2 separate regions of the Homo sapiens genome follow, and region 1 is linked to region 2. Evidence: fine-mapped expression QTL. A gene starts in region 2. The other region holds a variant in brackets. All regions are shown on one strand. Distances are between the middles of the regions.

Region 1 (2,899 bases), 260 kb before region 2:
ATTCTTCCTGAAATTATAATTCCTGAAATTGGCCATGACTTGCAACTTGACCCCCTCTGCTCAAAGATCATAGAAGTTCATGGCTGGGCACTGTGTCTCACGCCTATAATCCCAGCACTTTGGGAGGCCAAGGCAGGCAGGCAGATCACCTGAGGTTGGGAGTTCGAGATCAGCCTGACCAACATGGAGAAACCTCACCTCTACTAAAAATACAAAATTAGCCGGGCGTGGTGGCGCACGCCTGTAATCCCAGCTACTAGGGAGGCTGAGGCAGGAGAATTGCTTAAACCTAGGGAGGAGGAGGTTGCAGTGAGCTGAGATTGTGCCATTGCATTCCAGCCTGGGCAACAATAGTGAAATTCCATCTCAAAAAAAAAAAAAAAAAGATCATAGAAGTTCAGCTTTCCTCCAAAAGCTTTTTTGGCATGGATCCTATCTGTCACGTTTAAGGTGATATCAGTCAGGAGATCCCCAGTTTGCAGGTGACAATATTCTGGGATGAAGTCAGTGAGGGAGATGTCTACATGGATCTCGTTGGGGTATGGGTCTTTCCCATTGACCTACCTGACTGCAAATCTTTTTTTTTTTTTTTTTTTTTGAGACAGAGTCTCGCTCTGTTGCCCAGGCTGGAGTGCAGTGGCTCAATCTCAGCTCACTGCAACCTCCACCTCCCAGATTCAAGCGATTCTCCTACCTCAGCCTCCCAAGTAGCTGGAATTACAGGCATGTGCCACCATGCCCAGCTAATTTTTGTATTTTTAGTAGAGATGGGGTTTCATCATGTTGGCCAGGCTGGCCTCGAACCCCTGACTTCAAGTGATCTGCCTGCCTCAGCCTCCCAAAGTGCTAGGATTACAGGAGTGAACCACCGGGCCTGGCCTTGGCTGTGGATCTTGTAGTACTGATTTGGGTCCAGGCTCTCCTCCTCAGGACCCACACCATTGTCAGTGGTATGGTTGGTGGCAGCAGCAGTGACCTGGGCTTAGCTGTTTCTCACTGAGCTCTTACTGCTTGGCTGCCTTCTCTGCCACTTTCTTCTCGGCTTTCAGGTATCTCTTCGGCTTGTTCTTGCTCAGTTTTGACTCACCACCATCCACTTTAACCTTGGCCCCTTGTACTGCAGTCATCTTCCCAGAGGGCCTGGACCCAAAATTGTGTTTTTTTTCTTTTTCTTTTTTTTTTGAGATGAAGTCTTGCTCTGTTGCTCAGGCTGGAGTGCAGTGGCGCAATCTCGGCTCGCTGCAACTTCTGCCTCCAGGGTTCAAGGGATTCTCATACCTCATCCTCCAGAGTAACCAGGAATACAGGCACCCACCACCACTCCCAGCTAAATATTCACATTTTTAGTAGCGATGGGGTTTTGTCATGTTGTCCAGGCTGGTCTCGAACTCCGGGCCTCAAGTGATCCTCCCACATCAGCCTCCCAAAGTACTGGAATATAGGCATGAGCCGCTGTGCCTGGCCCTGTTTTTTGTTTTTTTCACGTGGCCGTGTAGTTAAGGAACCAGCCTTATCGTGTGGGT[A/G]AGAAAATTGAGCAGCTGGTCAGATGAGGGGTTCCTTCAATCCCTCCACTTCCAGCTGCTGCCTCTAGGAAAGGCCTCAAATTCCTTACCTCAGCTTCCTGGGATTACAGGCGCACGCCACCATGCCTGGCTAATTTTTTTATTTTTAGTAGAGACAGGGGTTTCTCCATGTTGGCCAGGCTGGTCTCAAACTCATGACCTCAAGGGATCTGCCCACCTCAGTCTCCCAGAGTGCTAGGATTACAGGCGTGAGCCACTGTGCCCAGCCTCAAATTCCTTACATCTATCAGTTTGTCCGGGCATCATTTCCTGATCACCCACTGGTGCTGGCCATTTGCTGGGGTGTGCAGTGAGGTGGCTGGATAAGTCTCCAGCTATCACATGTGCTGGCATAAGCACATGGGGGTGGAGGGTGGGCTCTGTAGAGGCCCCCAAGATCCAGGAGCCAGTGCTGACCAAACATCTAGACAACATGTGTGATTTCACATTTAACCTCAAATTCAGACTTGCTGTCTCTTGCTTAACCTTGTCTGCTGATCTCCGAGGGCTATCAGACCTGTTTCTGCAAAAACACAGTGAAGTCACAGCACACCCTGCCCCGGAGCTCTCTAAGCTTCCTGTTTTTATGCAGAAAGCCTGCCCTCCTGTGAAGCTGACCATGTGAGATCTCACTGACTCCGCATCTGGGTGAATCTGAGAAGCTTAGTTAAAAACAACAACACAAAACTTTTTTTTTGAAACTGTATCTCCCTCTGTGGCCTAGGCTGGAGTGCAGTGGTGCCGTCATGGCTCACTGTAGCCTCAAATTCGGGGCTCAGGTGATCCTCTCACCTCAGCTTCCCGAGTAGCAGGGACTACAGGGTGGTGCCACCACACCCAGCTAATTTTTTTTTTTTTTTTGGTAGAGATGGGATTTCACCATGTTGCCAGGCTGGTCTCAAACCCCTGGTCTCAAGTGATCCTCCCACCTTAGCCTCCCACAGTGTTGGGATTACAGGCATGAGCCACTGTGCCCAGACCAAAAAACTTTTTATAGGAAAAATTGCAAATACATGAGAAAGGAGAGAGAAAAGTGTATTAACTCCCATGTAGCCATCACCCAGTTTCAAAGATTACCAACTGATGGCTCATCTTATTTCATTTATGCTCTCACTCACCTCTTTCTACAGATTATTTTAAAGCAAATCATAGACATCTATTTCATCCATTTTTAAGTATGCCTCTCTAAAAGGTAAGGGCTCTTTTTAGGCTGGGCACGTGGCTCTTGCCTGAAATCACAGCACTTTGGAAGCTTGAGGTGGGTGGATCACCTGAGGTCAGGAGTTGGAGACCAGCCTGGCTAACATAGCGAACCCCATCTCTGCTAAAAATACAAA
Region 2 (2,899 bases):
GTGCTGACACAAGTGTCCAGAGCTGTCCTTCTGCTCAGCCAGGGAGGCCGGAGGAACTGATCTGGGAGGCAAAGGGTGCAACTCGATTGATCCAAATATATACGTCCACTCACTGACACTTAGGGGAGGGGTTCCAAGCAGAGGGCAGGAGGGCAGCACCAGCGAGGATTCCTCAAGTATTGTCATCCCAGGCCTGCAGAGAGGAGAATGGAAGGGTTTTAGGCAGGGGAGATACAAAGTCATCGCAATCTGTATTCTAGGAGCATCCCCTACTCTGTGGAGATGGGGTAAGGGGAGCAGGATAGGGATTGAGAAGCCGTTGTGGCTGGGGAGAAGAAAACGAGGTATAGGCCGTGGGAGGAGTGGGGAGGAAGGGTCTGAGGTGCTACCCATCTCTGGCTGGGTCCCTGTCACTGGGTGGCAGGGAGCAGGGTCTTGGGTATGGTCTGGAACCAGAGGACGTGTACTTGTGGTCATAAGGCTGGGGGAAAAGATTCCAGGGCCCTGGAGAAAGTCAGTGCTTGAGGTGTGGACAGGAAATTTCGGAGGAGGGCTCAGGCGCCCATGAGGTCAGGAGGCTCTAGACAGAGAGCCCCAGAGCCACCAGAGGAAAAGGAACTCGAGAGAAAGATGGAGGAGCAAACAGAGGGAGGGGAAGGGGGCAGGAGGTGCAGCTCCCCCAAGAGGGGGGGCAGGAGGTGCAGCTCCCCCAAGAGGGGTGGCAGCCCTCTTGGGAAGATGAGGACAGAGCCCCAGGGAGGCCTGGGGTTGGCAAAGGGAGCCTGCAGTTTCTTTGTGGGTGCGGGGGCCTCAAGGGCTACGAGTCTGAGCTGTGCGTGTGTTTGGACAAGTCCCCAGAGTGTGTGTCTTCCTGGGGTTCCTAGACTGCGAGTGGCAGTGGCCCGGCGGCGGAGGCCGTTTGGATCCCTGTGTGAGCTGTAGGGGGCGCCCTGGGCGTCGGGCCCAGGTCAAGTGCGAGATAGGAACGGGGTGCGGGGGCCGATGAGAGCTCCCCGCGGGAATGTCCGCTGTGGACGCCCTCGGAGGCCCCATCTAACTCCAGGGCGGCGAGCGTGGCCGGGCCCAGTTCACGGGCTGCTCGAGCCCTGACGAGGCAGCTGGGGGCTGTCTGGCGTCCACGCTCACGTTCTGGGCCGGCGGACCCCGTACCGGCCAGGCCGTGGCGGCCACGGGGGCCCGGAAGCGCCGCCGCCAGCTGGCCCCGCACGGAACTGTGTCCCGACGCGGCGCGCGCTGTCGCGATCCGGCGGCGGGTGACGTGGCGGGGCGGGGCCTGAGCTGCCGCGGCGGCGGCGGCGCGACCGAGCATCCTGGCGGCGCCGGGCCACTGGGAGGTAACGGGCTGGGCCATGGGCGGGCGCGCCGGGAGCGGGGCCGGGGCTGGGCCGCGTTCTGTGGGAGCCGAACCCTGTGGGTCTTCGCTGCCGCCGTCGGGAGCGGGATGCGGCCCAGAAACAGCGCGGGGCTGGCCGATCGGGGCCGCGCGAGAGGCGCTGCGGGTGAGGGGGGGCGCCACGAGGAGAGAGGGACCTCGAGCGTGAGGGCCGAGTGTGGGAGAAACGCTGTATGGGTGCGAGCCCCGGAGGCTGATGGTGACCGCGAGGGAGCCAGTCTTGGGGTGTGCTGGCGACGCGGCGAGTGTGAGGGAGACCGGGGGTGTGTGTGGAGAGGGAAACCCCAGGTGCGAGGGTGACCGGGACGCTGAGTGCGCGGGCCGCGCCGCGAGCGTGAGACTGTGCGACGGTGACCCTGAGTGGGGCTGTGACTGCGCCTCCGACTGCAGGACGGAGAACCTGTGCTGTGTGGCGGCCGCGGTGGGGCAAAGAAAGACGCGGGCTCAGGACCTCAGGAGCCAGGCTTCCTGGGGCTGTCGCAAGAATGACGATTATCATTTTAAAATCAGTCCTTTTACTTTAGAGAATGCCGCAAGGTTTTGTGGCGTGCTGGAGCCTGGAGCGTTGGGCTGCTGGCGCTGGGGAACCCGCGTGCCCCTGGTGATTATGGCTCTTTTGAGCGTCCCTATAGCCTGTCATCTTGTGTGACTATCTCTCCTGAATGTGGGGAGATAGACGTGAAACATTCTGAAAATTCTTTGCTGGGCTCTAAGCAAACATGTTGTGTAATGGTCAGTATAAATAGGAATCAGGGTGTCGGCGAACACGTTTTTGAGTACCTCTTGTATGCCCTGGGCTTGGTGACACAGTTAAAAAGAATTCAGTCTCTGCCCTTGATAGGGGAAAAAGCCAGGGCAGCTCATCTCGCAGGGCGGCTGTTCAGTGCCCAGCCATCCGGGGCTTGTCTCTCAGAACTGCTCCCAGATTTCAGATCTGGGAGGAGCAGACTTGAAAGGCTGTGAGTACTTCCTTATATCAGTTCCACCTCTTTTTGGTGGCGGTGAGGCCTTTTGGGGACCTGCCCAGGCTGCCTGCATTACTCAGGTCCCATGTGTGCTGCGCAGACGGCTTTTGCTTCCCAACTTTGATCTCAGATCGTTATTCAAGTCGTTACACTGGAGTTTATTTTCCTGGCAAGTGTGTGGAAAACCACCAGCCTGATTTTCTCCTCTCTTCCTCTCCTTGTCCTCCTTCCCTATTTGGCCGTGGATGTATTTTTATTGCATATACCGGTTTTATGATCCCCATCTCCCTGGAACTTCTTAGTAGAAGAAATTTCCTGACCTTTGTGCTTCCTGCTGTAATTTCTTGGATGTATATTAGTTTCTAAAAAAGTTATGCAGGCCGGGCGCGGTGGCTCAGTCCTGTAATCCCAGCACTTTGGGAGGCCGAGGCAGGCGGATCACGGGGTCAGGAGATCGAGACCATCCTGGCTAACATGGTGAAATCCCGTCTCTACTAAAAATACAAAAATTGAGCCAGGT

The links.
Region 1: its variant is fine-mapped to the expression of SLC7A6 in whole blood (TOPMed, PIP 0.95).

Annotation. Positions count from the first base shown.
Region 1 is chr16:68,003,883-68,006,781 of GRCh38, forward strand. It overlaps the pseudogene KARS1P3. Among named protein-coding and RNA genes, the nearest start is that of DPEP2, 5.8 kb to the left of the region's middle. RefSeq lists an enhancer at 2,704-2,899. The variant A/G (reference allele first, on the strand shown) is at 1,524.
Region 2 is chr16:68,263,222-68,266,120 of GRCh38, forward strand. It overlaps SLC7A6 (solute carrier family 7 member 6), which reads left to right and starts at 1,305. Exons shown (of 11, transcript NM_003983.6): 1 at 1,305-1,355. LOC124903704 (a long non-coding RNA gene) reads right to left here and starts at 1,236. Exons shown (of 3, transcript XR_007065096.1): 1 at 1,147-1,236; 2 at 1-193. RefSeq lists a silencer at 1,191-1,470 and an enhancer at 1,843-2,899.